Linked DNA regions of Homo sapiens: region 1 is linked to region 2. Evidence: fine-mapped expression QTL. A gene starts in region 2. The other region holds a variant in brackets. All regions are shown on one strand. Distances are between the middles of the regions.

The links.
Region 1: its variant is fine-mapped to the expression of CD2BP2-DT in whole blood (INTERVAL, PIP 0.94).

What each region holds. Positions count from the first base shown.
Region 1 is chr16:30,128,250-30,133,614 of GRCh38, reverse strand. No RefSeq gene overlaps it. Among named protein-coding and RNA genes, the nearest start is that of MAPK3, 7.7 kb to the right of the region's middle. The variant C/T (reference allele first, on the strand shown) is at 2,540.
Region 2 is chr16:30,352,588-30,357,952 of GRCh38, reverse strand. It overlaps CD2BP2-DT (CD2BP2 divergent transcript), which reads right to left and starts at 2,519. Exons shown (of 2, transcript NR_184233.1): 1 at 2,333-2,519; 2 at 1-1,660. CD2BP2 (CD2 cytoplasmic tail binding protein 2) reads left to right here and starts at 2,645. Exons shown (of 7, transcript NM_006110.3): 1 at 2,645-2,741; 2 at 3,246-3,349; 3 at 3,631-3,769; 4 at 3,895-4,052; 5 at 4,153-4,585; 6 at 4,666-4,772; 7 at 4,858-5,365. The coding sequence starts at 3,272. The coding sequence ends at 4,968. It overlaps TBC1D10B (TBC1 domain family member 10B), which reads left to right. Exons shown (of 9, transcript NM_015527.4): 9 at 1-851. The coding sequence ends at 9. RefSeq lists enhancers at 2,474-2,533, 2,614-2,673, 1,728-2,679, 2,411-2,705, 2,396-3,595 and 1 more.

The DNA of each region.
Region 1 (5,365 bases), 220 kb after region 2:
GAATGGATTAATACACTGGGGGACATCAAAGCTCTAAGATGACAGTGCCGGAGCTCTGAGGATCTTTTCCCCAGCAAAACAAGCAAAGCTGGTGAAAACCATTTAAAAATAAATAAACACTTAAAGTTTCTGGAATTATCCTAATGTCATATAACAGATGAATAAACATTTAATTTTATTTTTTATTGAGATGGAGTCTTGCTCTGTTGCCCAGGCTGGAGTGCAGTGGTGCAATCTTGGCTCACTTTCTTATTCAAGAAAATCTACTAAAACTCAGTAAGAACAGGGAGAATCTGTGGCATTGAATTTTATTACTTTTATTATTATTATTTTGTAGAGATGGGGTTTCACTATGTTGCACAAGCTGGTCTCAAATTCCTGGGCTCAAGCTATCCTGCCACCTCGGCCTCCCAAAGTGCTGGGATTATAAGCATTGTTATCGGTGAAAGGTTATCCAAGTTACCGGTGACAAATCTGTACGGGTCTGCAGCAACCTCAATTCTTGCCTCCACAGAAGAAAGAACCACAGGGCATAAGGCAGAAAAAGAGACCAAGGGAAGTTTCAGAGCAGGAGTGGAAGTTTATTTTAAATGGCTTTAGAATGGGAAAGAAAGGTAAGTACATTTGGAAGAGACTCAAGTGGGCACCAAGGTCAAGCGTGGTGTTCAACCTTGATCCTAGGACTTTATAGGCTGGCTCCTTTCCCATGATTCTTCCCTTAGGATGGGCTGCCTGCATGCACAGTGGCCTCCTTACCCTGGGAAGGTGAGCATGCACAGTGTGTGTAGGAAGTTGTATGCATGCCTATCTGAGGTTTTCTTCCCTTTTCCGGTGGTCTGACCCCGGAAGGTCATGCTCCATCATTTTGTCTCTTTCTTTTTTGTTTGTTTGTTTTTTTTTTGAGACAGTTTCACTCTTGTTTCCCAGGCTGGAGTGTAGTGGCCTGATCTCAGCTCACTGCAACCTCCACCTCCTGGGTTCAAGCAATTCTCCTCCTTCAGTCTCCTGAGTAGGTGGGATATCAGGCACCCAACACCACGCTTGGCTAATTTTGTATTTTTAGTAGAGATGGGGGTTTCACCACATTGGCCAGACTGGTCTTGAACTCCTGACCTCAGGTGATCCGCTCGCCTCAGTCTCCCAAATTGCTGGGATTACAGGTGTGAGCCACCGTGCCCAGACTATTTTGTCTCTTAATGCACATGTCCAGGAAATTGCTTCTCCCTGGTGTCTGCATTCAATTAACACTCTAACATAACAGCTGTGGACCATCAGGAGCTTGTCTCTCTCTCTGGCGCTGGCTGCCAAATTATTTAGAGAGGCAATGTGATCATTGTTGAACCATCACTTGACATTCCTGGTGGGTGGGGAAGAGCCCTCTCCAGCCCTGCTCATGCCTGTTTAACTACCTGTAACATTATGAGCCACTGTGCCAGGCCATCTGTGGCATTTAAGCCAGGAGGACCAACTATCTCCTGACTGCCCTCCCCCCACAGTTCAGCTGGAAGGAAACTGCTCTCTGAGTAGATGTGGCCAAGAAGACAAGCTCCCTCTCCCCTCAGCTGCCAATCAAGGCTTACCATATCTCACCAGGAGGAGCATGCTGCCACCAGTTTTCATCCCCTCCAACTCCAAATTGAAGAGGCTACATTTCTGGTGAACGTGGTAAAGAAGTAGGGCACTCTTCTCCTCCACCCAGCACTCGCCCACACCATAGAATGAAGGCTGTACCATCAGTGACAGTCCAAGAATACTGGGACCATAATCACACTCCTCCCAGCTTGCTTGTGGAACAGAGATCCCATGCCAGGAGGGGCAAGCCACGAAAACCAGAGGCTACTGCTCCACCAGTGTCCAAAATAGGGTCTCAGAGGCTTTGCCCAGTGGGACAGACAGTTCATAAAAAAAGAGACCCCAAGGGCCAGGCATGGTGGCTCACACCTGTAATCCCAACCCTTGGGAGGCCGAGGCAGGTGGATCACCTGAGGTCAGGAGTTCGAGACCAGCCTGGCCAACATAGTGAAACTCCACTCTACCAAAAATACAAAAATTAGGCTGGGCACAGCGGTTCACACCTGTAATCCCAGCACTTTGGGAGGCCAAGGTGGATGGATCACCTGAGGTCAGGAGTTCGTGACCAGCCTGGCCAACATGGTGAAACCCTGCCTCTACTAAAAATAAAAAATTAGCCAGGTGTGGTGGCATGTGCCTGTAATCCTAGCTACTGAGGCAGGAGAATCGCTTGAACCAGGGAAGCAGAGTTTGCAGTGAGCCACGATCACGCCACTGCACTCTAGCCTGGGGGACAGAGTGAGACTCCATCTCAAAAAATTTAAAAAAAAAAATACAAATATTAGCTGGGCATGGTGGCGCACACCTGTAGTCCTGGCTACTCAGGAGGCTGAGGCAGGAGAATTGCTTGAACCCGGGAGGCAGAGGTTGCAGTGAGTTGAGATTGTGCCATTGCACTCAGCCTGGGCAACAAAAGTGAAACTCCATCTCAAAATAAATAAATTAGATAAATAAATAAATAAACAAA[C/T]AAGACAAAAAGAGACTCTTGGCAGCAGCAAGAGAAAAACAACTCATCGCGTACAAGGAAACTCCAATGAGATTGACAGTTGATTTCTCATCAGAAACAACGGAAGCCAGCAGGTGGTGGGATGACACATTCAAAGTTGATTCTTGTCTCTGTGGTGGTTATATTCCCCAAAGTCACCACAAACAATGAATTAGAGAATACTGAACATTGCTTCTAGCGGAAATACATGGTGAAGTTCCTGCCAGCCTCTGATCACCACACTTTTGTCAACCAATCAGTCCACAGCTGTGTGTTACATGTGATTCTGTTTTGGGTTTTGTTTGTTTTTTGTAGGTCTTGCTCTATCGCTCAGGCTGAAGTGCAGTGGCACAATCACAGCTCACTGCAGCCTTGAACTCCTAGGCTCATGCCAGGCGCGGTGGCTCACGCCTGTAATACCAGCACTTTGGGAGGCCAAAGCAGGCGGATCATGAGGTCAGGAGACCGAGACCATCCTGGCTAACACGGTGAAACCCCGTCTCTACTACAAATACAAAACATTAGCCGGGCGTGGTGGCAGGCGTCTGTAATCCCAGCTACTCGGGAGACTGAGGCAGGAGAATAGCGTGAACCTGGGAGGTGGAGCTTGCAGTGAGCTGAGAGATCTTACCACTGCACTCCAGCCTGGGCGACAGAGCGAGATTCTGTCTCAAAAAAACAAAACAAAACAAAAATCCTAGGCTCAAGGAATTCTCCTGCCTCAGTCCTGTAGCTGGGACTACAGACGCGCATCACCACTGCGCCTGGCCCCCACATCTATCTTTTCAGACTGGTTTGGGACTACAGGCACACACCACCAGGGGTGGTGTATGTGTGCCTGTAGTCCTAGCTACTCAGGAGGCTGAGGTGGGAGGATCACTTAAACCCAAGAGTTCGAGGCTGCAGTGAGCTATGATCAGGCCACTGCACTCCAGCCTAGGTGACAGAACAAGATCCTGTCTCTAAAAAAGATAAAATAAAAAATAAGGCCAGGCGCGGTGGCTCGCGGTGGCTGGCTGTAATCCCAGCACTTTGGGAGGCTGAGGTGGGCGGATCACAAGGTCAGGAGTTCGAGATCGGCCTGGACAACATGGTGAAACCCCGTCTAGGAAACTAGTCTTCCCAGCTAATTTTGTATTTTTAGTAGAGACAGGGTTTCACCACATTGGTAAGACTGGTCTTGAACTCCTGACTTCAAGTAATCCACCCCTCTTTGGCCTCCCAAAGTGCTGGGATTATGGGTGTGAGCCACCATGCCCACCCCATAATTACTTTTGCACCAACAAAATATAAGAGGGCTTCAAAGGGAAGACACCAGCATAATGGCCTTCAAGATATTGTACGATCTAGCCGGGCGCAGTGGCTCACGCCTGTAATCCCAGCACTTTGGGAGGCTGAAGCGGGAGGATCAGCTGAGGTCGGGAGTTCAAGAACAGCCTGACCAACGTGAAGAAACCCCGTCTCTACTAAAACAAAATACAAAAAATTAGCCGGGCGTGGTGGTGCATACCTGTAATCCCAGCTACTCGGGAGGCTGAAGCAGGAGAATTACTTGAACCCGGGAGCCAGAGGTTGCCATAAGCTAAGATCGTGCCATTGCACTCCAGCCTGTGCAACAAGAACAAAACTCCATCTCAAACAAAAAAAAAAAAGAAAAGAAAAAAAGAAAAGAAATTGTACAATCTAAACTGAACATGGTGGCTTGCATCTATAATCCCAGCTACTTGGGAGGGTGAAACAAGAGGATTGCTTGAGGCCAGGAGTTCGAGACCAGCCTGAGCAACATGGAGAGACCCCTATCTCCTAAATAATTTTTTAAAATTAGCCAGGGGTGGTGGACTTCATTTGGTAGTTAATGAGAGGAATTAGGCCAGGAGCAGTGGCTCACACCTGTAATCCCAGCACTTTGGGAGGCTGGTGGGGAGGACTGGTCTCAAGCCCAGGAGCTTGAGACCAGCCTGGGCAACATGCCAAAACCCCATCTCTACAAAAAAAAAAAATATATATATATATATATATACATACAAAAATTAGCTGGACATGGTGTTGTGTGCCTGTAGTTCTAGCTACTTGGGAGGCTGAAGCTAGAGAACTGCCTGAGCCTGGGTGGTCGAGTCTACAGTGAGCCATGATGGTGCCACTGCACTCCAGCCTGGGGGACAGAGCGAGACCTTGCCTCAAAAAAAAAAAGGTGGGGGGAGGAATTAAAAATATATATATTATAATAGACACTGCTGTAACTGTCTGCTCAGCACTTTCTGGGGATGGTGCCCGAATTTTCCTTGGGAAAACCATCCCTTCCCTAGCCTACTTTATGTCATGCCAGTAGAGATAACTAAACCCCCAATTCCACACTGATTCAGGTTGAAGGATTTGCACAGGCTTCAAACAAAACTAGTAACTGGCCAGGCACGGTGGCTCATGCCTGTTATCAAAGCACTTTCAGAGGCTGAGGTGAGTGGATCGCTTGAGGCCAGGAATTTGAGACCAGCATGGCCCACATGGCCAAACCCCGTCTCTACTAAAAATACAAAAATTAGCCGGGCGTGGTGGCGGGCGCCTGTAATCCCAGCTACTCGGGAGGCTGAAACAGGAAAATCTCTCGAACCCAGAAGGTGGAGGTTGCAGTGAACCAAGATCGCACCATTGCACTCCAGCCTGGGTGACAGAGGGAGACTCTGTCTCAAAAAAACTAGTAACCAATAAGAGTCAAATCTAGGCCTTGCATTACAAGAGACAGAGACAGGGAGAAAGAGAGACAGAGAGAGAAGAGCTTTCCCTTGCTGGAGTTACTGAAAAAACCAGACA
Region 2 (5,365 bases):
TACTTCTGACCTCTGCCCTGGGGCTGGACTGCATGGCCCCCCTCTTTCCCTCAGCCAAGAACAGGCCTGGCCCAAGGTGCCACCCCCTAGCACCTTGTCAGGCTGTCCCTTGCTGGGGAAAGTGGCTTGGTTCCCCATCTCCTCGCCAGCTGCTGATCCCTACACGGGCAGGACAGATGGGCAGCTGCAAATGAGTCTGGAGCCTCTCATCTCCCATGAGGCTCAGCTGGGGTCTCTGTCGCTCCTGCCCCAGTTCCCTCTGGGTCCCCTCCTAGGTGCTGTCCTGAATGGCCCGTTGTCATCCCAGGGGTGACTCCTGGTGATGGGAGTCAGCAGTTTCAGATTCTTACACTCCATAGCTCCCCTTACCATGAGGTGGAGCTGGCTTCCTTTTCCCTGTCTTCAGCCCTCCCTGTCTCCCCCACTTCCTGGCCAGGGCTCTCATTCTGGACCTGTGTTGTAATTGTGTACAGAGGATGGCGTTGGCCTGGGGTGGGGGTGCTCGCTTTGTCTTCTGTCCTTTGGTTCTCCTTCCATAATGCTCCTGTACCCAGTTTATTTAAGGGGACATGCACTGGAATAGGAAATGTCCCCCATCTCCCTTCCTGCACCCTGCTGTGCTCCCTCCAAACCCACCTTGCTCTGTGTTCTCAGGCCCCCCTGCTTTTGTCTCACCAGGACCCATACCTTTCACCTTGTTCCCTTCCACCCCTCCAGTTAGTCCCTATCTGGGTAAGGGTCTTCCCTTGAGCTCCAGGGGGTGGAACCCAATGTTTACATTCTCTTCTGTCTCTGCCCCCACCCCATGCAGCGCTTTGAGGAATTGGAAAAGAACCTGCTGTTGTACCTGGGCCTGTTTTCTGCCTTGTTATTTGATGAGGGGGGGATGGGGTAAGGACGAGGGAGGGAGGGACAGAGCCAGGACCTGGGTCTCTGTTGAAGCAGTCTGCTGTCTTGGCAAGTAGGTACCTCTTAGCTTTGGGTCCATCTCTCAGTCACTCATCAGACACTGGTTGAGCTCCTGCTCCATCTTTGCCTGGGATCTGCTGTCTCCATTGTCACTGGCTGCCTGGAGCTCTCTATGTACCACGTGCAGCACCCGGATCTCCTTCCCAAAGTGCTCATGCAACTCCTGGAAGCTGGAGGGGGTACTCACAGTGGCTAGAAAGCCACTGTCCTCTGGGGATGAGATGGGTTCTTGGCCAGTTGCCTGGCACAGCTCCCAGTATTGGGTTTTGGTGGGGGGGGAGGGGGGACAGCAGCCCAGCCAGCCGCCTCCAGCTCGCGCCAGCCAGTGCCCACAGCCAAGTCTCCAGCTCTTCCTGGGTTTCTGCAGCCAGCTTGTAGGCCCGCCCACCTGTGCCCTCCACCCCAGGGGTCAGGATGGTAAAGGCATAGGGTTCTGCAGCCTTAAGGTGTGGTTCCACCTGGCAGTTCTCTAACAGGATGAGGCTCAGGGGTGCATGGTCGGTCTAGTGTTCTAGGTAGAAGAGGAGGTTTCCTCGGAGGATGAACCATCGGCGCTGGTAGCTGAGGTTTCGGGTCCCCTTCTTTAGCAGAATGCCTTCCTGGTCTGGGGCCTGTGTTCTGTAACCATGGAAGAAACTGAGCACGGACTTTCTGTGCAGTTTTCATCGTGATCCAATATGGGAGGAAACCCCTAGGGAGAGAGAAGTGGCCCATCTAGTTGCCTGGGGGAAGAGTAGGGGAACTCTCATGCTGTCCTCGTCTGGCTTCAGCACGTGCTGCCTGCGCACAGTCTTGGCTTAGGGGGATGCAGGCTCCGAGTGTCAAGAGCTAGGGGTCCCAGCACAGGGGCTGATCCCCGCTACCTCCCCAATTCCCCCTTCTGCTTGGGCCACATTCCGCTACCTGGGCAGGAGTTGCTAGGCCCTGTTTGCTCAGGGGGGCTTCATGCTGCAGAGAGGCACTGTTGCCCTTTTCCAGGCCTACCTGAGAGCAGGGCACAAGGGGCTTCTGGCCTGAGTACTGGCGCCAATGCCACCTCTCCAGTGATGGCTCTCCCACCTCAGAAACCAGGAACTCGCCCAGGGTATGGGCGTGGGACAAATTATTTCCCCTGGGTCCTAAAGGGAGGTGTGTTCAGAAAGTGCCCGGAGAGCCGTCCAGGGGCCCCAGGCTGGCCATCGGGAGAGTCAGGCTTCCCCTCGGAGAGGCAAGGCTGCACCTCTCAGGCTAGGAGGGCTGACCACTGGACCATAGGAATGGGAAGGCAGGATTTCTAACGAGACGGTAGGGGCGCTGAGCCCTTAGCCCTGGGGGAAGGGTGACTTGAACCCAGGACAGGAAAACGGAGCAGCAACCCACTGACCCTGCTCGGACTTTGCCCCTCCATCCTGACCCTGGGCGGCCCTTTAAGCAGATGCGCTCCAGTTTTTCTCCAGAGCCTCTACTGCTTGAATGACGGACTCGAAGCTACTTCCGGCCATTTCTCACGCCCAGTCAGAGTCCAGGAATTCTTAGGTTCCCTCTTCTCACCATTGTCCTCCCACGTGACTGACGTCACTTCTGGCGGGAGAGAGGGTGGAGGCGTCTTCGCTCGCTTATCGCATACTTCCGCCCGCTCTTCCAGTTAGTTCCCTAACCCGAGTGAAGCCACTTCCGGGCTTCCCGGGCGCCTTCCGCAGTCCTCTTCCGGGTGATGGCGGCCGGGTGCCCCGGATGTAGCCCTGGCGCAAGCATCTCTTCTTTTTTCCACCTCGCCTTCCGCGGATTCCCAGGTGAGTGCGCGAGGGTGGGACCGCCCGAATCCCCGTGGCCCTCTAAGTTGTACACAGCCCGGGACAGTTGGGGCTCACCACACGGAATTGGGAGTTCGGAGCAGGGAGGAACGGGGTGGCGAGAGCGCCAGGTCCTGGGTCTGCCGGGGCCCGGCGAGCTCCGAGAGAGCCAGGGTAGAGAGCGGGGGTCAGCCCGTGGAGCCGGTGGCGCGCAGACTGCGGGGGCTGGAGTTGGGGGCGGTCACGTGGTGAAGCCTGTCTCCTTTCAGCCAGGGTCGGGGGATCCAGAGGGTCCGCTCCTCCGTCCCCGCCCCGTTTAACTCGCGGATGCTAGACCCAAGTCCTGGAGGCCTCCTGGCTGCCAGCTTCCTTTCGGCCCCTGCTTTTGTGCTCCCTCCGCTCCCAAACTGTACCTGTCACAGACCAGGAAAAATGTTTGCTGTGCTGCGTCTGTTGGCGAGTCCCCTCCTCACCCGGTTCCCTTCCTCTGCATCCTTTCCTCAGCTTGAGAAACACCTCTTTGCCCCGTCATGCCAAAGAGGAAAGTGACCTTCCAAGGCGTGGGAGATGAGGAGGATGAGGATGAAATCATTGTCCCCAAGAAGAAGGTGAGGGGGCCAGACTGCTTTGTGTGGGGGAAAGAGGAGCTAGAAGCCTGAAGAGGAAGAAAGCTGGCGGGAGAGGGGCGGGGCGGGCAGGCAGAGAAAAGCCTAGTTTTTTCAGGTTCTCTGAGGAATGGGTTGGGAGCGTCTTTAGTGTGGCTCCTGAAATATTTGGGGAAGTAGTCGAGATCCTGAAATATTTGGGGAATATTTGGGTCCAGATCCGGAAGTATTTGGGGAGGTAGCCAGTAACCTGCATTTCTCAACTTTCTGGCTCCTGCTCACAGCTGGTGGACCCTGTGGCTGGGTCAGGGGGTCCTGGGAGCCGCTTTAAAGGCAAACACTCTTTGGATAGCGATGAGGAGGAGGATGATGATGATGGGGGGTCCAGCAAATATGACATCTTGGCCTCAGAGGATGTAGAAGGTAAGCTGTACCCAAGAATACACTCTGCTGGAAAAACAAGTAGGGGCCTCTGGTGGTGTGGAGCGAGGGAGGCTCCGGTCTCTTTTTTCCATGCCTGGAAAAGGGCACCTGTGTCTTTGGTGCAGGTCAGGAGGCAGCCACACTCCCCAGCGAGGGGGGTGTTCGGATCACACCCTTTAACCTGCAGGAGGAGATGGAGGAAGGCCACTTTGATGCCGATGGCAACTACTTCCTGAACCGGGATGCTCAGATCCGAGACAGCTGGCTGGACAACATTGACTGGGTGCGGCCCAGGGGCTGGCGTGGCTGGGGCCTGGGAGTGGCAGATGCTGGGCCTGCTCCCGTGGCAGTTGGTGGGAAATCACTCCATCTTCCCATTACAGGTGAAGATCCGGGAGCGGCCACCTGGCCAGCGCCAGGCCTCAGACTCGGAGGAGGAGGACAGCTTGGGCCAGACCTCAATGAGTGCCCAAGCCCTCTTGGAGGGACTTTTGGAGCTCCTATTGCCTAGAGAGACAGTGGCTGGGGCACTGAGGCGTCTGGGGGCCCGAGGAGGAGGCAAAGGGAGAAAGGGGCCTGGGCAACCCAGTTCCCCTCAGCGCCTGGACCGGCTCTCCGGGTTGGCCGACCAGATGGTGGCCCGGGGCAACCTTGGTGTGTACCAGGAAACAAGGGAACGGTTGGCTATGCGTCTGAAGGGTTTGGGGTGTCAGACCCTAGGACCCCACAATCCCACACCCCCACCCTCCCTGGACATGTTCGCTGAGGAGTTGGCGGAGGAGGAACTGGAGACCCCAACCCCTACCCAGAGAGGAGGTGAGCTTGGAGGACAGAGGAGGGGGCAGTGGGTAGGAAGTGAGACACTGGAGGCCAAATGGCTTTGCCTGTTATTTTAGAAGCAGAGTCGCGGGGAGATGGTCTGGTGGATGTGATGTGGGAATATAAGTGGGAGAACACGGGGGATGCCGAGCTGTATGGGCCCTTCACCAGCGCCCAGATGCAGGTGAGCTGCTTTCTCCCTCCTCCTGCCTTGTCCCTGCTTCCCCCACTCCTGTCAGTTGTTCCCCAGCTCTGCCCTCTCCTTGCAGACCTGGGTGAGTGAAGGCTACTTCCCGGACGGTGTTTATTGCCGGAAGCTGGACCCCCCTGGTGGTCAGTTCTACAACTCCAAACGCATTGACTTTGACCTCTACACCTGAGCCTGCTGGGGGCCCAGTTTGGTGGGCCCTTCTTTCCTGGACTTTGTGGAGGAGGCACCAAGTGTCTCAGGCAGCGAGGAAATTGGAGGCCATTTTTCAGTCAATTTCCCTTTCCCAATAAAAGCCTTTAGTTGTGTACTGGGGCCTTGGCTGTGCTGATGGCCAGAAGCCAGGGGCCTTCTCCACAGTCCCTTTGGACTTGTCTTGGTCCCTGAGTACTCCCATGAAGATCCTTCTTGGAGGTGCCTGTCAGGTATCCTGTGGCCTCCCTGCCTGGACTCTGCTTGCCGTGTAAACACCCCCAACTGCGCTGCTCTGTGCTCCTCTCCCAGGTTTCTTGTTCGATTCCTCTTAGGTCTTTGGCTTTCAGGACCTCAGATTCTTTATCCTTGTAGCC